Linked DNA regions of Homo sapiens. The protein of the gene in region 3 purifies or fractionates together with the protein of the main gene of each other region. This does not show direct contact. Each region holds a gene or a part of one and is shown on either strand. Other genes may lie near its edges. The genes, in order: WDR62, FOXP4, GOLGA6L2, CEP295, MTFR1L, AKAP11 and SIX4.

Evidence for each region.
Region 1: the proteins of GOLGA6L2 (region 3) and WDR62 purify together in Homo sapiens (affinity purification with mass spectrometry; one large-scale study listed by BioGRID and IntAct). This does not show direct contact.
Region 2: the proteins of GOLGA6L2 (region 3) and FOXP4 purify together in Homo sapiens (affinity purification with mass spectrometry; one large-scale study listed by BioGRID and IntAct). This does not show direct contact.
Region 4: the proteins of GOLGA6L2 (region 3) and CEP295 purify together in Homo sapiens (affinity purification with mass spectrometry; one large-scale study listed by BioGRID and IntAct). This does not show direct contact.
Region 5: the proteins of GOLGA6L2 (region 3) and MTFR1L purify together in Homo sapiens (affinity purification with mass spectrometry; one large-scale study listed by BioGRID and IntAct). This does not show direct contact.
Region 6: the proteins of GOLGA6L2 (region 3) and AKAP11 purify together in Homo sapiens (affinity purification with mass spectrometry; one large-scale study listed by BioGRID and IntAct). This does not show direct contact.
Region 7: the proteins of GOLGA6L2 (region 3) and SIX4 purify together in Homo sapiens (affinity purification with mass spectrometry; one large-scale study listed by BioGRID and IntAct). This does not show direct contact.

The regions. Positions count from the first base shown.
Region 1 is NC_000019.10:36,099,897-36,102,752, reverse strand, and holds part of WDR62 (WD repeat-containing protein 62), read right to left. Parts: intron 2,006-2,856; coding exon 1,878-2,005; intron 1,540-1,877; coding exon 1,436-1,539; intron 1,090-1,435; coding exon 979-1,089; intron 740-978; coding exon 602-739; intron 17-601; coding exon 1-16. UniProt on the Homo sapiens protein: Required for cerebral cortical development. Plays a role in neuronal proliferation and migration.
Region 2 is NC_000006.12:41,594,881-41,598,380, forward strand, and holds part of FOXP4 (forkhead box protein P4), read left to right. Parts: coding exon 1-111; intron 112-2,295; coding exon 2,296-2,362; intron 2,363-2,900; coding exon 2,901-3,070; intron 3,071-3,500. UniProt on the Homo sapiens protein: Transcriptional repressor that represses lung-specific expression.
Region 3 is NC_000015.10:23,441,391-23,444,243, reverse strand, and holds part of GOLGA6L2 (golgin subfamily A member 6-like protein 2), read left to right. Parts: intron 1-31; coding exon 32-82; intron 83-170; coding exon 171-467; intron 468-1,735; coding exon 1,736-1,794; intron 1,795-2,123; coding exon 2,124-2,265; intron 2,266-2,561; coding exon 2,562-2,853.
Region 4 is NC_000011.10:93,727,682-93,730,858, forward strand, and holds the end of CEP295 (centrosomal protein of 295 kDa), read left to right. Parts: intron 1-999; coding exon 1,000-1,140; intron 1,141-1,752; coding exon 1,753-1,849; intron 1,850-1,929; coding exon of another isoform or gene 1,930-1,932; coding exon 1,933-2,100; intron 2,101-2,188; coding exon 2,189-2,288; intron 2,289-2,367; coding exon 2,368-2,467; coding exon of another isoform or gene 2,468-2,549; coding exon 2,550-2,588; coding exon of another isoform or gene 2,589-2,596; 3' UTR 2,597-2,677; downstream 2,678-3,177. UniProt on the Homo sapiens protein: Centriole-enriched microtubule-binding protein involved in centriole biogenesis.
Region 5 is NC_000001.11:25,822,954-25,826,453, forward strand, and holds part of MTFR1L (mitochondrial fission regulator 1-like), read left to right. Parts: exon of another isoform or gene 1-65; 5' UTR 66-151; coding exon 152-175; exon of another isoform or gene 176-653; intron 654-690; coding exon 691-795; intron 796-3,348; coding exon 3,349-3,458; intron 3,459-3,500. UniProt on the Homo sapiens protein: Mitochondrial protein required for adaptation of miochondrial dynamics to metabolic changes. Regulates mitochondrial morphology at steady state and mediates AMPK-dependent stress-induced mitochondrial fragmentation via the control of OPA1 levels.
Region 6 is NC_000013.11:42,303,152-42,306,651, forward strand, and holds part of AKAP11 (A-kinase anchor protein 11), read left to right. Parts: coding exon 1-712; intron 713-3,500. UniProt on the Homo sapiens protein: Binds to type II regulatory subunits of protein kinase A and anchors/targets them.
Region 7 is NC_000014.9:60,717,852-60,721,351, reverse strand, and holds part of SIX4 (homeobox protein SIX4), read left to right. Parts: intron 1-207; coding exon of another isoform or gene 208-229; exon of another isoform or gene 230-244; intron 245-906; coding exon 907-1,592; intron 1,593-3,500. UniProt on the Homo sapiens protein: Transcriptional regulator which can act as both a transcriptional repressor and activator by binding a DNA sequence on these target genes and is involved in processes like cell differentiation, cell migration and cell survival.

The DNA.
Region 1 (2,856 bases), on a different chromosome or scaffold from region 3:
GCTGCGGGGAAGAGCTCTAGGGGAAGATCCCGAGGGGACCCTCATAACCCTTCCCGCCGAGCAGCCCTGGCCCTAGGCCAGCCCACAGCCCAGCGGGGCACTCCCCAGAAACCCTTATGTACAGACACAGGGTACGAGCAGGGGCAGTGGGTGAGGAGGCATCGTGAGGCTCAGGTCAAGAGTGAAGCAGTGGGCCGGGCACGGTGGCTCACGCCTGTAATCCCAGCACTTTGGGAGGCCAAGGCGGGCAGATCATCTGAGGCAGGAGTTTGAGACCAGTCTGGCCAACATGGTGAAACCTCATCTCTACTAAAAATACAAAAAATTAGCAGGGCGTGGTTGTGGATGCCTATAATCCCAGCTACTCAGGAGGCTGAGGCAGGAGAATTGCTTGAACCAGGGAGTCGGAGGTTGCAGTGAGCCAAGATTGGGCCACCGCACTCCAGCCTGGCAACAGAGCGAGACTCCGTCTCAAAAAAAACGAAGCAGTTGCTCTCCACTCACCCTCCTGGCCCTGCTGGGGAGCCAACTCCAGGGACGCCAATGCTGTGCCCAGGCTGCACAGACGGCCTCGGCAGGTGTGGGTGAGGCAGGGCCCTACCTCTGCAGGGGGACTCAGTCAGTGTCTCAAAGTGGTGGCGGAGGAACTTCTCCTGCTCCGGAGTCTGGGGTAGGGAGCTGCTGGGGACGCTGGGTCCCTCGGGCAGGGACAGCTCATCTTCTGTGGGACCTGCGCATCCTGACAGGGAAGGAGGGGAGGGACAAGAGGAGCCAACACCATGAGTCACAGCAGACGCCACCTGAAATGGAGAAAGCGGGCCCCACCCATCCCTGCCCTGTTGCCCGCAGGCTGAGAAGCAGGGATCCCCGTCTTCCAGGCTCAGTGGGCTCCAAGTGCAGGGCCTGTGCTTAGACATTGTGACTGGCCCTAAGCCAGGCCCGAGCAGCGAGTCCCCTGCGTGTCTGGCCCCTGCTTACCTGGGAAATGGGGCAGCGACGTGGCAAACCGAGGGGCAGGGTCAGGAGGCGGAGCTGGGGAGTGGATGGCTGCGAAGCTGCACTCCAGGTCGGCCTCTGACTCCCCCGAGTCTGAAGGACAGAGTCGGGGTCAGGAGCCCACAGCCTGACCATTCTGGTGAGCCAGGGCCAGGGCTACCCTTCCCTGGGCTCAGTTTCCCCATCTGGAGGAGGGATGGTAAGAGCAGCTGCCCCCCATTTTATGAATAAGGGAAGTTCCACATCAAGGAGGTGGCAGAGCTGGGCTCTCAGCTGTAGGCAGCTGGGCCCAGAATCCTCAGGCAGCAGCAGGGACCACATGTGTCTTCCTCGACAGACTCTGAGCTTCAGTACTGGGTCAAAGTCACCATCGGTGCCCAGAAAGGGGCTTGGCTGAACGCACAGACTGTCACAGGGTCCCTGCCTGCCCTGCACTCACCCTCAGGCGGGCTCTGGTCCTTTGGGCTGTCGGAGGACACCCTGAGGTAGGAGTCGCCCTGCTGGTCTCCAGGCCCGGCCTCCACCTCCTTCCTGCAATACTGGCTGCAGTGCCAGTGGGGGCAGAGAGGGAACAAGGACTTCAGCTGGAGACTCAACAGCTAGCCCCACCCGGAGCCCCTAGGCACCTGTACCCGCTGCTCCTGCAGGAGCACTGCGACAGCCTCCCCGCCTCCTCCAAATGCCCCCTCCTTCCCCCAGGTCAGGCCCTCCTGTACCCCACCTGGAACCAGGGAACTAAGGCTGGGCTCCTGCCCCATCCAGGCCTCAACTGTCCCCACTCCCACAAGCCCACTGGGAAGGCAGAGAGCACTTCTTCCAGGATGCAGCTATCAGCTGGGGGTTCCTCCAACTAAGGCTCCCTTGGTGGAAAGGACACCCACCTGTCTGTCCCTGTGACTGTCACTTCTGCCTCCAGAGAGTAGAGGATGAGCTCACTGGCCTCAGATGATTCCTTCTGCTGGGGCAGGAAGGAGGGGTGCCCGCGGCCAGCTTCCTGGGGACTCTCTGACTATGGGGAAGACAGCACAGCCATTCTGAGGCAGGCATGGCTGGGGCCACCAACAGTGCGCCAGGAACCATGCCAGCAGCCCCACTGCTGGAGGCTGTGAACCAGGGCCTGTGCCATGCCCTCCACTCGCAACCAGCTTGTCCTGGTCTGCCCCTGCATTATCAGTCCCTTTACAGATGAGGAAGAGGTGTGGCACCAAAAATAGGAGGCCCAACCCTCTACGTGTCTATTTATATCAAGTTCAAGAATAGGAAACCCAGTCCTTGGTGAGAGGTCAGAACACTGGTTATCCTGGTGCGGGGACCTGACTGGGAAGGGCAGAAGGGGGTTTCTATGAGGTAGAAAACACTCCAGATTTTGCCCAGGGTAGTGGACACACGTGAATTACACAGATAGTTCATCAAGCTGTATACCTAAAATCTGTGCATGTTACTGGATGTATATTATACCACAATGAAGATGACAAATTATAGGATAGGATAAAAATGAATTTTGTTTGGAAAATAGTAGAGAAAGAGCTAAAGTTGCACGGGCACCTCTAAGAGCCCAGGCCCTATACTTAAGCATGGATTCCTGTAAAAGCCCTCTGGGGCAGAAGAGATTGTTATTACCATTTAAAAACAAAACAAACAAAAAAATTTAAAAAATATTTTTGTAGAGGTGGGATCTTGCTACGTTGCCTAGGCTGGCCTTGAACTCCTCAAGTGATCGTTAAGTAATCCTCCTGCCTTGGCCTCCCCAAATGCTGGGATTACAGGTGTTAGCCACTGCCCCTGACCCCATTATGACTACTTTTTAGAAGACTGAAGCCCAAAGAGGTAAGCCTCTTACTCCAGGTCACACAACAGGAA
Region 2 (3,500 bases), on a different chromosome or scaffold from region 3:
CCACAACCTCAGCCTGCACAAGTGCTTCGTCCGCGTGGAGAACGTCAAGGGTGCCGTGTGGACTGTGGACGAGCGGGAGTATCAGAAGCGGAGACCGCCAAAGATGACAGGGTATGTGGGTCCAGAGCTGGATGGGCTGTACCTGCCCAGGGGGCAGGAGCCAACTCACCCCCACCCCCTACCTCTCCAGGGTACACATGTGCACCAGATCCTTCCTGGCTGGGGGAAGGGGTGTGGGGAGAAAGGAGCAGAGGAGACTAGTGCTTGGGGACAGGGGGCTGGAATCCGGAAGTGATGGATAATCAGAAGGCAGACATTTATGTCCTCTTCTGTCCTCACTCTGACTGAGGGAAGGGGCCAAGAAGGAGGCCTGGTAGCAAAGAGAGACAGGGGCCCCAAGTAGCCCTGGCCAGAGCTGGCACACAGGCAGATGCCAGCCAACGGGCCATGGGTGAGGGGCTGCCACCCCCAGGGCACCCGCTCTCTCAGCTCATCAGGATGACTAGACCTCTGAGGTCCCGCGACCCCACCAATTCATCTTACGGCAGAGGAGAGCCAGTGAGGGCCAGGGGCTGGCAGGAGGCCCCAGAGCAGATTTGTGGCAGAGCTGGTTCCAGGACCAGGTCTCTGCCCTCCTGGTCTTTTGTGCTCAGCTTCACTTCACCACCTGGCATTTTATTTATTTACTTATTTATTTATTATTTTTTTAATTTTATTATTTTATTCATTTATTTTTTTTGAGAAGGAGTTTTGTTCTTGTTGCCCAGGCTAGAGTGCAATGGCACGATCTCAGCTCACTGGAACCTCCACTTCCCGGGTTCAAGCAATTCTCCTGCCCCAGCCTTTCGGGTAGCTAGAATTACAGGTGCCCACGACCACGCCCGGCTAATTTTTTTTGTATTTAGTAGAAATGTGGTTTCACCACGTTGGTCAGGCTGGTCTCGAATTCCCAACTTCAGGTGATCCACCTGCCTTGGCCTCCCAAAGTGCTAGGATTATAGGCGTGCACCAGCGCACCTGGCCTATTATTTTTTTGAGACAGAGTCTTGCTCTGTTGCCCAGGCTGGAGTGCAGTGGCACGATTTTGGCTCACTGCAACCTCCACCTTGTGGGTTCAAGCGATTCTCCTGCCTTAGCCTCCCGAGAAGCTGAAATTACAGGCGCCCACCACCACACCCAGCTAATTATTTTACTTTTGGTAGAGACGGGGTTTCACCCTGTTGACCAGGCTGATCTCGAACTCCTGACCTCAGGTGATCTGCCCGCATCGGCCTCCCAAAATGCTGGGATTACAGGCGTGAGCTACCGCACCTAGCCTCCACCTGGCAGTTTAAACAGAAACTGAGGAGCCTGGGACAGGGTCAGGACCTCCCTTTGGCTTCCACGTAGCAGCAGTGGCCTTCTCCCGACCTCAAACAGCCCCACCCCAGCCACCTGCTTGCTGTGCCCCTTGGGCCAGAGCCCCTGGGTAAGGAGAGGAGAGCAAGTTAGATGGATGTCTCTGAGGTGTGGGGTGTCTGCTCCCCTCAAAGATGCCTGCTTACCAGGCAGGAGCCTTTGCACCCCAGGCAGTGTGCAGCCTGGAGAATGGAGGGAAGCCATCCCCTGGTGAATGCCTAGGGGCCAGTCTCCAGGCCTGGCTGCGCTTGCACCTCTGCTTCTCACCAGTTTGGTGACCTTTGGCTGTTTCCTTAAGCTCTGTGAGAGCTCTGTGATGGTGTCATCACTGGAAGAGGGACAGCCCCCAGCCACTGCTTTTCCTGTCCCAACTCCCGAACACCTTCCCGTGCAGAGAAGCCTTCTGTATGGAGGCTTCCATACAGAAGCCTCCATGTGGGACAGGCTGAGCATATGTCTGACATGTCCCAAAATCTAGGATGGCAAGACAGTGTGGGCAGACCAGGTGTGTAACTACTGAGACTATAGATTAGACCTTGCCAAACATTGGAAAATCTAGACCGGAGAGAAAACGGGTGGGGGGGCAGCATGCTGTGAAGGCAGACACTGGGGGGATGCCAGTTCCCACTTCCCAGCTCCGAGACCTGGACAGGTCCCTGAACCAAGCCCATCGCACCCACCTGTGAAGGGGCTGCTCCTGCAGGGCCAGTTGAGCGTGAAGACCGAATCAGACCAAGTACACACACAGCTCCAAGACAGCGGCTGATCCGCCCTGGCCTCCCGGAATAGGGAATGGGACCCATTCCCAGCACAGGCCGTTACTTAGTGAGAGTAAAGAGATGCGAATGAAGAGCTAAGTGAATGAGTGAGCCAAAGATGGCCTTCTCTGTCCTCCAGGAGCCCCACCCTGGTGAAGAACATGATCTCTGGCCTCAGCTATGGAGCACTTAATGCCAGCTACCAGGTGACCTGCCCAGAGCCCACCCACTCACCTCTACCTCCCGCCCCCTTGCTTTCTCATACAAGAGACCCCCATCCTCCCCTGCAGAGGACTCACCAGAGGAGGGAAGGAGGGTGAAGACCCAAACTCTCCGAGACCCCACCTCTCTGCCCCACCCCAACTCGGGGCCAGCCTCCACCTCTGCTTTCAAGGCTGGGTTCAGACAAGGCAGGCAGCTGGGAGGATGGCATACCTATAGCATCCCCTTTCCTGGTTTGTCAGTCTGGGGGTTCTCTGTTCCCTGGGAGAGGGGATAAGCCAGGCCCAGGTTCCAGGAAAGCTAGGAGGTAGGAGGTCGGGGGGTCAGAGTTCCAGCCATGGGGGAGGGGTGCTACATTCAAAGGCTGAGTTGGGGCTTGGGGGTTGCCCAGACAGATCCGCCCGTGGGGCCAGTAGGCAGACACACAGGCAGCTCTCTAGTGGGCGGGGAAGGCACAGCACTTGACTGAGTGTGCCCCATCCTGTGGAGCCACTGACGAGGCCCAACCCTGTGCCCCTGCAGGCCGCCCTGGCCGAGAGCAGCTTCCCCCTCCTCAACAGCCCTGGCATGCTGAACCCTGGCTCCGCCAGCAGCCTGCTGCCCCTCAGCCACGATGACGTGGGTGCCCCCGTGGAGCCGCTGCCCAGCAACGGCAGCAGCAGCCCTCCTCGCCTCTCCCCGCCCCAGTACAGGTGAGCACACAGCACGGACCCCCACCCACCCCAGCACCCCTCAACCACCAGGGAGGAGGCGTCATCCCCCACCCTGGGTGGGGTTCCCCATCCCACCCCCACCACGCCTCTCCCCAGGACAAGTGGCTTCTCTCTTCCTTCCCTCAGCCCTCTCAGCCCTCCCTTGTCCCACCTGCCTGTTCTTATCCCCTCTCCCCACCTCCCCACCTTCCCACCTTCTCCTCCCCATTTTCCCCCTTTCTTATTTTTCCTCCTCCTCTCTTCTCTTTTTTTTTTTTTTTTTTAAGACGGAGTCTCGCTCTGTCACCCAGGCTGGAGTGTAATGGCAAGATCTTGGCTCACTGCAACCTCTGCCTCCTGGGTTCAAGTGATTCTCCTGCCTCAGCCTCCCAAGTAGCTGGAATTATAGGTGCCTGCCACCATGCCCAGC
Region 3 (2,853 bases):
TAGTAAGAGCTCTGTCTTCCTCTTTCTATAGGAAAAGAAGGCAAGCCACCAACATCAGGAAGCCCTAAGGCGGGAGATAGAGGTGAGTGGAGGGTGTGAAGTTCCCTCCTGTCCTCTGGAGAAGGTTTTTTTGCTTCTCTTTCAGCACTTGCTTGTCTTTTCTCCCAAAGGCCCAGGATCATACAATACGAATTCTCACGTGTCAGAAAACTGAACTGGAGACAGCGCTCTATTACAGCCAGGATGCTGCCAGGAAATTTGAAGATGGGAACCTGGGCACCCCATCATCCTTCAACCTGGCACTTTCACAGGCCTTTAGGGGGAGTCCTTTGGGCTGTGTCTCAACCTCTCTCATTCCAGGAGAGTCCAAGGATCTCGCCGGCCGCTTGCATCATTCCTGGCACTTTGCAGGAGAGTTACAGCGGGCTCTCTCTGCTGTGTCCACATGGCACAAGAAGGCAGACAGGGTAAGTCCAATCACCTCCCCAGTCTCCTGGGATCCCAGCTTCGCAGATGGAGGAATGAGCCTAAAGGTCCCTCCTGCAGGATGCAGTGTCCTGCCCAGAAGATAGTATGGGTCATTTCTTGCTGCTTTTGTGTGTGGTTATTAGAGGCAGGTTGGGGCTGAGTCAGCTGCTGTGGGTGAGTTGGGGGGCACTGTGGGGAGCGAGCACTGGACACAGAGCTCCAAGGCCAAGAGCCTGCCCTGCCCATACTTGGCTGTGGCCTTGACCAAGTCCTAGGCAGGGGTTAAGGTATTTGTACCATGAAGGTACAGAAGAGTATCTTTAGTATGTTACCATTTGTGTAGAGAGAGGGAACACACATAAGTGTGCATGTGCGTGTGTGTGTGTGTGTGTGTGTGTACGTATTATGGTAACATACATAAAAACATATTTGTAAGGATTCATAAAAAACTCAGGAGACAGGAACAGTGTGTGTGGGGTAGATATTTCCCTTCTCTACCTTCTGAGTTTTGGACTATGCCAATGTATCGTTCTTTCAAAAAGTCAACAAAGGATTAATTTCCTCCTTCTTATCTGTGCCCCTACCCCCAGGGAAAGAATGGGCTTAGAGAATCAGATACACCTGGGTGTTGAAATCCCAGCTCTGTCAAAGTGATCTTAGGCAACCATTTAACTTTTAATACCCCATGTTTTGCATCTATACAATAGAGGTAATAATGGTAACCGTCTCCTATGGAGGTTGTGAGGATTAAATGGGATTGTTAGCATAGTGCCTGGTGAAGCACTCAAGAAAGGTTCCAACAGTGGCAGTAATAACAGTAATAGCAATAGCAATATTATCTGATCTCTCTGGGCCCCTGTTAGCCAGCTATCAATTCAGTCTCTTTCCCTGTCCCTTCTACCCTTACTGAGTTCTCTGAAAAACAAGTGAGAGCCAGGTGTGGTAGCGCATGCCTGTAATCCCAGCTACTTAGGAGGCTGAGGCAGAATTGCTTGAACCCGGGAGGCAGAGGTTGTCATGGGGCGAGATTGCGCCATTGCACTCCAGCCTGGGCAACAAGAGCAAAACTCCATCTCTAAAAGAAGAAAAGGAGAAAAAAAAAAAGAAAAAAAAATGAGACCATGGGCTTGGAATTGCCTTGAGAACATGTCGGGTGTGATGGAGAGTGAGGGAGTGTTACTGTGGAGTATCAGTGTAGCTGTTGTTCCTGGTCGGCCAGCTGCTCTTCTGCCTGCTCTGTCCTGACTTAACCTTTCTCTATTTGCAGTACATCGAGGAGTTAACAAAGGAGAGGGACGCCCTGAGTCTGGAACTGTACAGGAACACGTAGGATGGGGGAAGGTGGGATGGGAGGTCTGGGGGCCCTTAGCGTGGGTGGTGTGCTGGGAGGTGGGGGGTACAGGTGAGCATGGTAGGGGGTCATACAGGTTTACATGTGTGCACAGGGAAGCTCTAGTGCCGGCTGTGCCACTGACTCATGGGGTAGCCTCAGGCAACTCATGTCTTCTCTCTGGCCTGCCACCTGGGACTTTTAATTCCTGGGGTCCCTTCCAGTGCCACGGTTCTGTGCTTGTGGGGCGAGAGTAGAGGGTTGATCACCAAAGCAGTCCTTTCTGTTCTTCGTTCATTCCTTTCTCTACTGCCTCGGGCCATAGCATAACCAATGAGGAGCTGAAGAAGAAAAATGCCGAACTACAAGAAAAACTTCGACTTGCAGAATCTGAAAAGTCTGAGATCCAGCTCAACGTGAAGGAGCTAAAAAGGAAACTGGAGAGGGCCAAGTTCCTGCTGCCACAGGTGAGCGGCTGCAGCCCCAGGGGTTGTGGGAGACCCATCCAGCTAGGACCATGGTCTAGGGATCATGCAAGGTATGGGGAGGGTCCAGCCAAGAGCTGGAAAATTTGGGTCCTTGTTCTGGTCCCACCATAGAATCCTCTAGAGTGTGCTAAAAATCTACAAATTTGGGGCCCTGCCTGGGAAATCAGAACCTCAGTGTTAAGGCTTAAAAATTTTTTTTAAAGAATCATAGATGAAAACTGTTATTTTATAGATTACATTTATATAGCTAGTTCATAAGTCTATTTCCTTTTGAGGTTCAAACCAACACTTTGCAGGAGGAGATGTGGAGGCAGGAGGAGGAGCTACGGGAGCAGGAAAAGAAGATACGGAAGCAGGAGGAGAAGATGTGGAGACAGGAGGAGAGACTGCGGGAGCAGGAGGGGAAGATGCGGGAGCAGGAGGAGAAGATGCGGAGACAGGAGAAGAGGCTGCGAGAGCAGGAGAAGGAGCTGCGGGAGCAGGAGAAGGAGCTGCGGGAGCAGAAGAAGCTGCGGGAGCAGGAGGAGCAGATGCAGGAGCAGGAGGAGAAGATGTGGGAGCAGGAGG
Region 4 (3,177 bases), on a different chromosome or scaffold from region 3:
TGGGAAAAAACTTTTTTCTTCTAAAATTAGAGATGAAGTTCCCACTATGCTACCCAGGCTGAACTCAAACTCCTAGGATCAAGGGATCCTCCTGCCTCAACTTCCGAAGTAGTTTGGACACACCACAATGCCTGGCAGGAAAAACCTGAAACAAAATACAAGCAAAACTGCTTGTTAATATTGCTATCCAGCTTGTGATCACTAGAAATATCCAGCATAATGCAGAAACTTAAAAATTTGAAAACTGTCTTCTGAGAGTATTTTACAAAAGATCCTTTTTCTCCCAATTCAGATATCCTTTCTCCAACTTCCCTGAAAAATGGTGGTTCTGCCTGTGCTTCAGCACTTTCAGTGTTGAGCCTCATTCCAGTGCAATGAATTCATCCATTATTGGAATAAGTATTGGAAACCTGCTCCTCATATTAAGCAACTTATAATCTGCTTGCTTTCAACACCAGTCAACTGGTGACTGGTTTTCATCTAGCAGTATGTGCAGTTTATCCTTCCACAAATAAACATAACAGATTGAAAATAAGAATTACAACTAAACCACGTTTTATGTGGCTGCTTTTGTTCTTGTTGTGTTTAGATACTTTTGAAACATTATCTGTTAGCAGTCAGTGGCCCACATTTGGTAGCAGCCCAGTCGACCCCTGCTCCCTTTAAAGGATACAATTCGGCACAGCCAACCTGCATTTATATTTTTTGCCCAACACTACAAGCATTTAGGTTTGTAATCATTGTGGTAGATACCTTTCAGTCCATTGTCACACTATTTCATCCCCTCCCCAAAGTAGGCTCCAGTATTTCTACAACTGAATGCTGGAGTTATGGAAGCCTAAGGAAATCTGATCTGTTGGTCTTTGCCAATCATTGCTTTTCTTCCTCCATTTTCACATTTATATACACTTGCAAAAAATGTGCATTATATACAAAACGATTAGTTTAAGTCTTTTAAGGCTATTTTGACATGGTTTTCCTTTTAATTGTGGTTCACAGGAAACAGAAACTGGCCATGGTATAATGGAAGAACCAGAACTTACTTTAATAAGCACCACTGATACCAGTATTGCTGAAATGGATTTTGCAAATTTAACCCTAGAAGAGAAGAGCGAGAATGAAGCAAAATGCTTCTTTCAGGTAAATTTAAGCTTTCCTTCTATTTTATTCTATTACAAGCAAACCAGTTGATTTGTCTCTTACAACTTATCAGAAGGTACTCATTGGAGGGAATTATGCTATGCATTTAACTAAGCCGACACCCCCACCAGCTCTCAATTTGTCTTAAACCTTCACTATTCTGTCAACCATTGTGCATTTTCTTTTAATCCCCACTCCAATTTATGCCTGTCTCCAAGACTGGCAGAACTAATCTTATACACCTAGTGTTATAGTGCCAAGTTGGAAGTTTTACCTAAACTTATTCCCAGATATTGAAAAATGACTTCAGAACAACTGGTAATTTTACTAGGGGAGTAGGGAGGCAATAAGAATAAAGCTATCTAAACAGAGGCCTAGAGGTGTGAGGGCAGTGGAGCCTAAGCCCAGTTCAAGACCAGCCTGGGCAACAAGGCAAAACCCAATCCCTACAAAAAATACAAAAATCAGGCATGGTGGCGGGTCTCTGTAGACCCAGCTAAGATTGAGGCTGCAGTGAGGTGTGATCATGCCGCTGCACTCTAATCTGACAGCAGAGCAAGACCCGCTTAAAGCGTTTAAAAAGAGTAAAACATGCAACTTTCTTGCCATTAGGTGAGTGAGTTTCTGCCTCTTGTATCAGCAACAGAAGCCTCAGATTATCCAGCTGTATCAGAACTTTCCATAGAAAAACCAAGGACAGCATCTACAGGTAAGCCTTGGACGGCCTCCACACTTCTAATGGAAAGTAGATACTTTGCCTATTTCTGTCATAAATTTCTTTTCCCCCAGCAGAAACCCCTCGCAGGCTTACACCTGTACCAGGGAGCTTACAAGAAGCATTTATAAAGAGGAAAAAATCATTTATGGAGAGATCCCACCAGAGGCAGAAAGAAATAAGGAATAAAATTCATGTCTCTGAAAATTCTCAAATCAAAACAGTTAAAGAGAAACCATCTATAAGTATGTTGAATTTTTAAAATCTTCAACCAACTCCCTGAAATGTTTAAAGCCTTGTGTTTACAACTTGATTTCACTTTTCTTTCCTCAGGTTCATCTGTGAGTCGTCTAAAGGGCGTGAATAAAGTCAGAGCATCTTTTCCTGAAGACAGAAAGACTACACAGGCTCTAAGGCACCAAAGGGGTCTAAGGTAGGGTTAATTTTTTTTTTTTTTTTAGTGATTCACTTTTTGCAGTGTTTGTCTCTAATTCTATATAAATTCTTTACAGGTTATACAATCAACTAGCTGAAGTGAAACAACAAAAGGAAGAAAAAACAAAACAAGAAGCTTATGCCCAAAACAGAGCAAGGGCAAAAGAATTCCATAAGGTGAGTATAACTGAGGGAGAAGGACTTAATTTTTCAAGCATGAAGTACACAACTGAAACTCAAATTTTTATTCCTTCCACAGAAAACACTAGAGAAACTTCGAGCCAAAAATACATGCTGACTTTCTAGAAATAGTGTAAAGGTTTTTTAATTGTGTATATGTAGCATTAGACAAAATTATTTAAAGTCAATAAATTGTTATTCGAGGAATTCCATGTTGTGATTTCTTCCACTGTCCATCAAGGTCACTTTAGATCCTCTAAAGAGCTGGAGTCAAAAGATTTATCTTCAAGTTTGCCCTGAAGAAGAGAAATTTTGATTAACCTTTAAAACTCTCACATGGCAACAATCCTGGATTATTACGTTTTATATCTCCTCAGGAAAACATAGCACCAAACATTAGGAGTGCTATGGCTTCCTATAGAGAACTTCCATCTTTGGTCACAGCGTTAAGAGCTCTGGGTTTCACAGCCTCATAAGCCCTCTTTGAAATGACCCATACAAATGTCTTTTCTAATGCATACATACCTTTTTAATGAAACTGATCCAGTTGTCCTGTCAGCCCTACATAACAATAGTATAAAAGTAAATTTTACATTTCCAGAGATGAGTGTACAGTGAGTGAACATGAATGAGTCCCTAGAACGAGCCTGAGTTAACTCTACTACAAACTGCTTGGTTATTAGCAACCCACAAGGGTTACAATATAA
Region 5 (3,500 bases), on a different chromosome or scaffold from region 3:
TGGTGACCATTAAATCCCCACTGTGGGGGGTTGTTTCACAAGAGGGAAATCTGGTGCTCCTCCAGATGGCCTGATATGAAGGAGTCACGCCTCCCGCCTCCCGGAGCTGCCCAGTGGCTGCCTTGTCCTTCAAGTGCAGGAGCTGGTTCAAATGTCAGGAATGGAAGCCACTGTGGTAAGGGGCATTCCCAGGGCAGGGGTATGGTGGGGAAGGTTGGGTGCTGGGCCTGCTGAAGTACTGTAAAAGGTTCTGAGACTCTCCAGTTGAGCACTCCTTTCTCCAGAGGCCTGGAATTGGAGCAAGGCCACCGTTTCACTCCCTCCCCCTAAGAAGAACCAACTATGATCCTGGGGCACTTCAGGAGTCAGTGTATGTCTGCCTTTCTGTACAGAGGACGGGAAGGAAAGCCTGGATAATCTCTACACTCAGCTACTTCCTCTCCCCTTCCCTGACCCTCCCAACATTGACTGCCTTAGCAGCAGCAGGTATTCCCTTGGGTGGCTGGCCAGGGTGTAGGCTGGCAACTGGGGAACCTGCCCTCACTATAATTGAGAGTTGACTTGCCCCTAGAGAGTGCCCTGTCCCTAGGTTTGTGGAATTCAGTCTCCACAAACCTAGAGAGGAGAGGACAAGGACAGTAGTTGGATTCATTCTCTGGGGTTGTAGCTGTCTCCGTCTCTTTGCTCCAGACCATCCCAATCTGGCAAAACAAGCCACATGGGGCTGCTCGAAGTGTAGTAAGAAGAATTGGGACCAACCTACCCTTGAAGCCGTGTGCCCGGGCGTCCTTTGAGGTGAGTATGTTGGAAGGGCAGGAGAGTAGAGGCTCAGACAGTGCTGCTTCTGTGCCCCAAACCCCTTGGTACTGCCCAAGTAGGTTGTTTCCTGGTCACTTTTCATTCTGTTATGAAATATTTGTTAAATGCTTATAAGATATCCTGGTCACTGTGTCCTCCTGAGTGCATACAAACCTGTGACCACAAGGAACCTGACAGGTCCCCCACATGGGACACTGACTATTGTGATTTTTGAGTTGAACTCTGCTTTTCTTCACCAGCCCTAAGAATTGACCATGTAGCCAGTATTTTTATTTTATTATTTTTTGAGATGAGGTCTCCCTATGTTGCCCAGGCTAGGTCTTAAACTCCTGGGCTCAAGCAGTCCTCCTGCCTCAGCCTCCTATGTAGCTGGGATTACAGGCACAAGCCACCATGCCCAGCTCCACTATTTTTAGTGTTTCTCTGAGGCCATAATTCCTCAGCCTTCTCTTTTTGGCCAATCTGGGCATCCTTTACTGGGGTGCTTTGGTCTTACCTCTGTGTCTAGGGATCCTTTAGCACCCACTCAGCAGCAGAGATTCCTACCTGGCCCAGGTCTCTTGAGACCCCTTCTGTGGTAGAAAGCTAAGTAGCATTTATTAGTCCCAGCTGCCTCCCTCTAGGAACTAAATGGTTAAGCACCAGCCCCAAACTATATGGTTCAGATGTGTGCATTTGGAGAGCTGGGATACAAAAGAAATACTTGTGCTTTCTACCCACACAGAGGAGATAGAAATATGTGCATGAAAGGATGTGGGCCCAGGTAGAAACAGAAATGAAGGAGCCAAATCTGTATAAAAGATGCTAAGAAGCAGAGTCTGTAGGAACTGGATCTGGAATTAGAAGAGGTGTCAGGGTTGGTATTAGGGTCAGGAATGGAGTTGGAAGTGTCGCAGGGGTAGGGGGCAGGAAAAGCTGTCCCAGTATTCAGATTGCCAGCTATCCAGAATTGTCTAAAGATCCTGGGCAGGAACTGGTCCTAACTTGCCTCAGAAGCATCAGAAAAAAAAAAGGGAGACAGCTAGGGAGTGTGGCTCACTGCATAGAGGCCGTCCCCACACTTGGCTATACCCTCTTCAGTTCTTTGGCCAGATGCTGGGCAGAGACAATCAAGGGCACAGGCTCTCACAGAGCAGGAATGTATGTGAGCAGTATTGGTAATACTAGATAACATTTACTGAGCACATACTATGTGTCAGGCACTGTGCTGTACTTTATATTTGTTTACTCATTTAATTGCCAAGAGCAAAGGAGCATTCAGGGCTAATCAGGAAAACAAATGGAGGCTTCCCCCAAATGCCCTATTTTAGCACTAGTTCCTGGGTCACTGGAAGTTCTTCTCTGTGTGACCTTGGAGTATCACTTAACTCCTGTGAGTCCCAGGTTTCCTATCTAAATGCAGGAGCGATCAATCCTGGATCCATCTACCATACCAAATAATTTGTAGCAGAAACAGTTGAATCTTACTTGTGTGTAAATATGCATTTATTATTATTATTAAATTACCTTAAATATTATTTAAGGGACTCTTACCAATTTATTTTGAAAATTTAAGCATATGAAAATATTAAAATTATGAAAAGTAAAAGGAAAATAAATTACCTATAATTACATAGTAATAATACAATAACTATTAATGTCTTAGTGTAGTCCTCTTTTTCTAGATGGATGTTTTTTACTTTGTTGTAATCACAGTCAACATGACTGAATCCTAATTTTTCACTTTACTCAACATCTCTAGGTTGAGGAGCTATTTTAAGAAATCCTATTATGGTTCCTTTTGTATAATCATTTATTTTTATTTAAATCTAAATATATTCAAATTTTCAGGTTTGTTTAAAACAGCATTGCTGTAACAATGTAGATCTCAATTAGCTATACAGGATTATAAAAAGCTAGTCAGGAAAAATTTCCTATTGCTGTAACAGGTTGTGGATGACCTTGTACTTGTATTTTCACCAGAGGGCACAGTGGTTTTAGACAGTTGCCATCTCTACTAAAAGGTGACTCAGGCCTTTTCCACTGAAGACACAGAACTGTTTGTAATCCCATAGACTCTCATGTGTCTTGCCTGTTTTTGTTTTTGAATGTGGCTCTGTTGTCCACGCTAGAGTACAGTGGTGCAATCTCAGCTCACTGCAACCTCTGCCTCCCAGGTTCAAGCCATCTTCCCACCTCAGTCTCCTGAATAGCTGGGACTACAGGCGTATACCACCATACCCAGATAATTTTTGTATTTTTTGGTAGAGGCAGGGTTTTGCCATGTTGCCCAGGCTGATCTCAAACTCTTGGTCTCAAGCATTCTGCCTGCCTCGGCCTCCCAAATGCTGGGATTACAGGTGTGAGCCACCATGCCTGACTGTCATCTGGCCTCTGTTCAATGTTTTCGACCAGGAACCTTCTTCTGCCCCCTCTAGGAAGCCTTCCTGACACCCAGTGCCGGATTAGGTACCCCTCCTGTGTATTCTGCAGTTTCTGATTGGCTCATCATGGCATCTGTAAATGTTGATGACTTTTGCTTCTCCATAGACCCTGCCCAACATCTCTGACCTGTGTTTGAGAGATGTGCCCCCAGTCCCTACCCTGGCTGACATCGCCTGGATTGCTGCGGATGAAGAGGAGACATATGCCCGGGTCAGGTAGTTGAGGCAGTAGCTGGTCTGCTAAGGAATGGAGAACTT
Region 6 (3,500 bases), on a different chromosome or scaffold from region 3:
CTAAGGAAGAGTTGACAGCCTCTCTAGTTGGCCTACCAAAATCCTTAACAGATTCTTGCTTGTTTGAAAAATCTGGATATGAAGAAGATAATGAGTGTCACGTTACACCAGAATTGCCTAAGTCTCTTCAGCCTTCCTCACAAAATCACAGGTTTTACCACAGCACTGGCAGTTTAAATGGATATGGTTGTGGAGACAATGTTGTTCAAGCTGTAGAACAGTATGCCAAAAAAGTAGTGGATGACACTCTAGAGCTAACTCTAGGATCTACAGTGTTCCGAGTGTCTGAGACCACAAAATCAGCAGACAGGGTCACTTATGCAGAAAAGTTGTCACCTCTTACAGGTCAAGCTTGCAGATACTGTGACCTTAAAGAACTCCACAATTGCACTGGAAATTCATCTCAGCACTTTTTCAGACAGGGTTCTCTCGCCAGTAGTAAGCCAGCTTCTAATCCAAAATTTAGCAGCCGCTATCAGAAATCTAGGATTTTTCATCTCAGTGTCCCTCAGATTCATGTTAATCTTGATAAGAAGGCAGTGCTTGCTGAGAAGATAGTTGCTGAAGCCATTGAAAAAGCTGAGCGAGAGCTGAGCAGTACCAGCCTGGCAGCCGACAGTGGGATCGGACAGGAGGGTGCCAGCTTTGCTGAAAGCCTTGCCACAGAAACCATGACAGCAGCTGTCACAAATGTTGGGCATGCTGTTAGCAGGTAAGTTTCACGTTTCTTTTGGTTGTTAATGATAAATTAAAAAGATAAATGTGATCCTATATGTCTTAGGTCCTGTTCATAAAGGAATGATTATTTTTAACCCTACATAAACAAAAGTTTTCCCTGTTGCATTTATGTATTGTTTCATATCCTACACATGACTTTAATATATTTTGGTCTCCTGATCCCTTTTGAGGGAAGGTGTTATCCATTTACAGAGCTGGAAAATGAGGGTTGGAGAAAATAATCACCTTATCCAAGTTCATAGAGCTATGAAATAGGTAAAGTTGAATTAAATAAATAGCTAGAGAATTTTATATAGTAGTCCCCCCTTATTCTCAATTTTGCTTTCCTCAATCTGAAAATGTTAAATGGAAAATTCCAGAAATAAGCGATTCGTAAGTTTTAAGTTGCATGTTCTGAGTAGCATGATGAAGTCTCACACCATCTCACTCAGGATGTGAATTACCCCTTTATCCAGTTTATCCATACTACATGTGCTGTTCACCTGTTAGTCACTTAGAAGGTATCTCAGTTATCAGGTCCACAAACCTGGTATGTACAGGGCTTGATGCTATCTGCAGTTTCAGACATCCACTGGGTGTCTTAGATCATATCCCCCATGGATAAGGGGGGACTATTCTATAGTAAATGTAGAATATTACTATATTAATTTACTATTCTGAGATTAAATTTTTGTACACCTTTCTTCATTCACAAGGGTAAGTTTTCTTATAAAGACCATGGTTAAACTACTCTGAAGAAGAAAGTGAAAATTCTTTACATACTTACACCATTTCTCTTGATTGGTTCACAATCTAAGAGGACAGTTCTTTCTGGTAGTCCTACAGTGTCCTGTTTTTCAGTAGCTATCTCTTGTGCTCAGTGATTCTTTTTTTTTTTTTGAGATGGAGTCTCGCACTGTTGCCCAGGCTGGAGTGCAGTGGCACAATCTCAGCTCACTGCAACCTTTGCCTCCCGGGTTCAAGCGATTCCTGTGCCTCAGCCTCCCTAGTAGCTGGGATTACAGGCACCCACCACCACGCCCAGCTAATTTTTGTATTTTTAGTAGAGACAGGGTTTCACCAAGTTGGCCAGGCTGGTCTTGAACTCCTGACCTTAGGTGATCTGCCCACCTCAGCTTCCCAAAGTGCTGGGATCACAGGCGTGAGCCACCGCAACCAGCCATGCTCAGTGATTCTTTAATAACAACTTAGTTACAGTTTTTCAGTTTAAACCTTCTTTGTCCCTGAGAAGATATCAGGACCAACTTGTGTTATTAGTTGATAGGATGATATTTGTAAGTCCTGCTTGAAAGAGAAAATGCTTTAAGTTGAGGTGGAATTTAATTGAGTCACATGATATTCCAGATTTTTGAGTAGCTTCTGTTAAAGCCATGACATGGTCTGCCTCTTTTCTTATCCATCTTAAAATAGGGAGATATAGCTTGGCCAGGATTCTTGAATCCAATTGCTCCATAGCGTCTACTTGAGATGAGAGATGATGTAGGTTTCTGGTGAACTAGGAGAGGTCTCTATTTGCCCTAATCAGGCAGCCTTCTTTCTCCTAGACCAGGGGTTGGCAAACTACAGTCTGTGGGCCAATGTGGCCTACTGGTTGTTTTTGTATGGACTGCAAGCTAAGAACAGATTTCATGTTTTTTTTTAATGGTTGAAAAAAATCAAATGATATTTTGTGATGTGGAAATTATATGAAATTCAAATTTCAGTATTTATAAATAAAGTTTTATTGGGACACCACCATGCTCATTCAATTACACATTTCTGTGGCTGCCTTTGTGCTATAATGGCAGAGTTGAGTAGTTGGGACAGAGGCTGTATGACCAGCAGTGCCTATGTACTTCCTGTTTGGCCTGTATTAGTTCATTTTCACACTGCTATAAAGATACCACCTGAGACTGAGTAATTTATAAACAAAGGAGGTTTAATTGACTCACAGTTCTGCATGGCTGGGAAAGCCTCAGGAGACTTACAGTCATGGCACAAGGCAAAGGGGAAGCAAGTGTTTTCTTCACAAGGCAGCAGGAGAGAGAGAGAAGGGGGAGCTGCCAGACACTTTTAAAACCATCAGCTCTCATGAGAACTCCCTCACTGTCATGAGAACAGCATGGAGGAAGCCGCCCTCATGATCCAATCACCTCCCACCAGGTCCCTCCCTGGGGGTTACAATTTGAGATGAGATTTGGGTAGGGACATAGAGCCAAACCATATCATGGCCTCTTACAGAAAACAATTGCGAACCTCTGTCCTAGATCCACATTTTCGTTTTCACTACATACCAGTTCCTAGTATGATAATAAACATAATAAATTGTTAATAAATATTCTCATGAATAGGTAATAAATTAGGCCTTTTTACAATTGAAATAATTTTCCTCATACAGGTTGCTTCAGGCTATTTTACTTTTTACTCCTCCTCAGTTCAGTCCTGTCTGCCCTACGGACCCATCCATCCCCCTTTCCTCCCACCCTCATGGGAAGAAAAGAGACTGTCCTCTAAAGTTTTTAAGACATCACTCTCAGGGGCTAGCAAATGCCTTTGTTATTGATTTTCTCAGTAATTTCCACTTTTCCTTCTTAGAGTTGGGTGAGTAGATAGCCCCTAAAGTTCTTCCTGTAAGCCAGTGCTGTCCAATTTCAGCTTTTTATTAAGGCTGGAGTAATTATTTTCCTGCTTCTCTTCTTAATAATTGTGCTAGGGTTCTGTAAATACTGACTAAGGAAAGCTGACTCTAGTGTGTAGAGTTTACGTTTAACATTTTTTATTTC
Region 7 (3,500 bases), on a different chromosome or scaffold from region 3:
TCTGCTCTCGTTTGCTCTCCCTCCCAGCCTCAGACCAAATGGGAAACCCCATCACTACCCACCCCCCAACCCCGATTTGGTATTTCTCCCAAGTCAGAGAGCTGAGGAACAGGGTCCTGCCTGGAACAGAGGGACCAAGGACGTTGGGGAAGAGGTCTAATAGTTAGAAGGCCTCTGAGTGACACCCTTTCCCTCCCACCTCACCAGGGCACTGGATGGTGTTTGTTAAATAGGCCCCTTTGGCTTCCTTTGGATTCAAAGGCGACTGCACATAACTGTTCTTGGGTTGAAAGTGCCTTTTCCTACAACAAGGACAGCCACTTTGTTGAATGAGAGAGTTGTCAGTCTGGTGGAGTAGAAGTTTGGGAGCAGGTGAGAAAACGATCTCTTGTTAACTAACTGACCAAAAAAGAAAAGCTGAGCACTTCCTACCTCCTGCTCCTTTGGCAGCTTCATTTACCTCCAAGATAACACTAATCTGAATTGGTTTGAGGGGAGGGGAAGGAGTTCCTAAACAGGAAAGACCGACCACCTCATTTAAGGTGTTTTTTTCTATGGTGTCAGTAGCAGCATATGTAACAGTAAGGAATAGCACTTCTACACTGTAAAATCAAATATGTTCTTCTCCTGTAATGCTGAATTTACATCTTGCAGATGTCTGGACTTTCCCTGAATTTATTGTTATTTTAAATGATTGGGATCTGAGAGTTTATCTTCCCAGATTCTCTGGCTGGTCGGAATCTGCTGAAAGGCCTCTTAGTTTAAATAGGACTAGCAGATATCCTGCTGTGCTTTCCTTAAATACTGCCTTTAATGGATTTAGAAGCTGGTTTTCCAAACAAGTGGCACTGTGTAGAATGTCATCCCCCTGACCTTCTGAACATTTTGATTTCCCCCTCCATACAGTGAGTCAGATGGCAACCCCAGCACTGAAGATGAATCCAGCAAGGGACATGAGGATTTATCTCCTCACCCACTCTCCAGTTCATCTGATGGCATCACCAACCTCAGCCTTTCCAGTCATATGGAGCCAGTATATATGCAACAAATTGGAAATGCTAAGATATCATTAAGCTCTTCTGGAGTTCTGTTGAATGGAAGCTTGGTACCTGCAAGTACTTCACCTGTCTTCCTTAATGGAAATTCTTTTATTCAGGGACCCAGTGGAGTTATCCTTAATGGATTAAATGTGGGAAATACACAGGCAGTGGCATTGAACCCACCAAAAATGTCATCAAACATTGTGAGCAATGGTATATCCATGACTGACATACTGGGGTCTACTTCCCAGGACGTGAAGGAATTCAAAGTCCTCCAGAGTTCTGCTAACTCAGCAACCACCACGTCCTACAGCCCCAGTGTCCCTGTCTCATTCCCAGGCCTGATACCCAGCACTGAGGTGAAAAGAGAAGGCATTCAAACAGTGGCTTCCCAAGATGGAGGGTCTGTAGTGACTTTTACTACACCAGTGCAAATTAACCAGTATGGCATTGTCCAGATCCCCAATTCCGGAGCAAACAGCCAGTTCCTTAATGGGAGCATTGGATTCTCTCCACTGCAGCTGCCCCCTGTGTCAGTGGCAGCTTCACAAGGTAACAATCTCATTTGGTACCTTAATGCACCAGCAAATGTGTTCATCAGCTGCTGTAAGTGACGCATTTGGTGATAGCTATAGATTGATGTTTCTGTTCAGGTACCTTATTAGCTGCCGAAGCTGTAGAGTAGCCTTGATGTGATTCTCCTCTTTCACAATACCCATGTCATATCCAGGTTGCTTTATTCCCTTGCATCATGAGGATGGGCTTTTATTTTACTAACAACTGAATGGAAAAATACAGTTCATAGCAAGTCCTGCCAGTTCTACAATTACAGAAATATGATAAGTCAATCAGTGCTTACAAAATAACTCACTGCTTGGCATTTTAATATTAAAAATTAATAAAATTGCTAAGAACACAAAATTAGTCTAGCAGTTGGTAAGAATGCATACACTTTACCTAAGCATTATTTATTTGACCAAAAAATGTTTTAGAAGAACAAGCTAAAAAGACCGGATCAATTATGTTTGAATCCTGTTTCCTCCTATAATGAAGACTAACAGACCTAAAAGAAAATCAGAGGAATATGCCATTGGATTTCTATCGCTCAGCATATATACTAACCCCCTAAATGTGTGGGTTTATTTGTGAAGATAATAGTAAGCCTTATTTTATATGTTTGTGGCTTTACTAACAGCAATCTTCCAGAGAAAGCACTTAAATGAAATTCAGGAAAACTGAGGCTGATATATTAGTTCTTCACTGACTTTAAGCAAGCCTGGATCCTCTATGTCATTTTCTCTTTAAAGAAATAGAAATGGTTAGAATTTGGCAGTGGAGTTTGCATAATCCCTTGAATTCAGGAAGGGTAGATCTTAATGCACGTTTGCCTTCTTGTAGACAAATCTGAAAATCCAGATTTTTACAAAACCAAAGTAGTAATTGTTGGCTTTAAAGGTCTGCTTCCTATAAGATGGTTTTACCACCCCCCCAAAAAAATCAATTTATGCACAACTCTCTTGTTACCACAACTATGGTCTATGTCAGCTTATTGAAGGAATTAATGGAAAAATTGTTCTAAATTTCATTCTGTACATTTGCATTTCTTTAGGCAAAATGGTACTAAAACAAGACATTCCTGCAGCATACTATTCAGTTCATCATTGTTCCAAGTTATGGAAAGAGTTAAGTTACTATCTAACATAGGGCAAAAATATGAAAACCACAGGGAAAGCCAAAGTGCTTAGTTTGATAATAATTTAATGTGGATCTAACCCCTTTTCTCTCATTTGGAAAATTTCCAAACAGGTCACATTTTAAAGGCAACAAATTTGAGCAGAAAGAATGAGTTATGTATGTTGGGGGAGGAGAAAAGTAGAAATACTTTTAATTGTGTAATCTAGAGGAGCACTGCCATAGAAAATTATTATGAACTAATAGCTGAGTTTTTAAATGGGACATTTAATAGGAATAAGAATAGCATTTTCAGTTAAAATAAGTAAGATCAAATCTTAGACTGTCTGGGTGAGTTGAACAGACAGTCTAAGTTTAACCAGATAGTTAAGTTTAATCCAGTAAGCAACATTTCTATGGTAGTTAGGTATTGCAGTTCTCAATAAAACATTTTGGGGATTCAGTTTTTTCTCACAAACAGATACTGAGCCATTCTTTAAAATGTCTTGACAAGATAGACTTATCTTTCTATAGTTGGGATTTATGTGGAAAAGTAGAATATCTACATCTTTTACTCACTTTACAGTCTGAGCAACTAAGATTATTATTATTATTATTATTATTATTTTTAGGCGGAGACTCATTTTGTCACCCAGGCTGGAGTACAGTGGCGCGATCTCGGCTCACTGCAGCCTCTGCCTCCCGTGTTCAAGTGATTATCCTGCCTCAGCCTCCCTAGTAGCTGGGACTACAGGCGTGCATCACCATGACCGGCTAATCTTCGTGTGT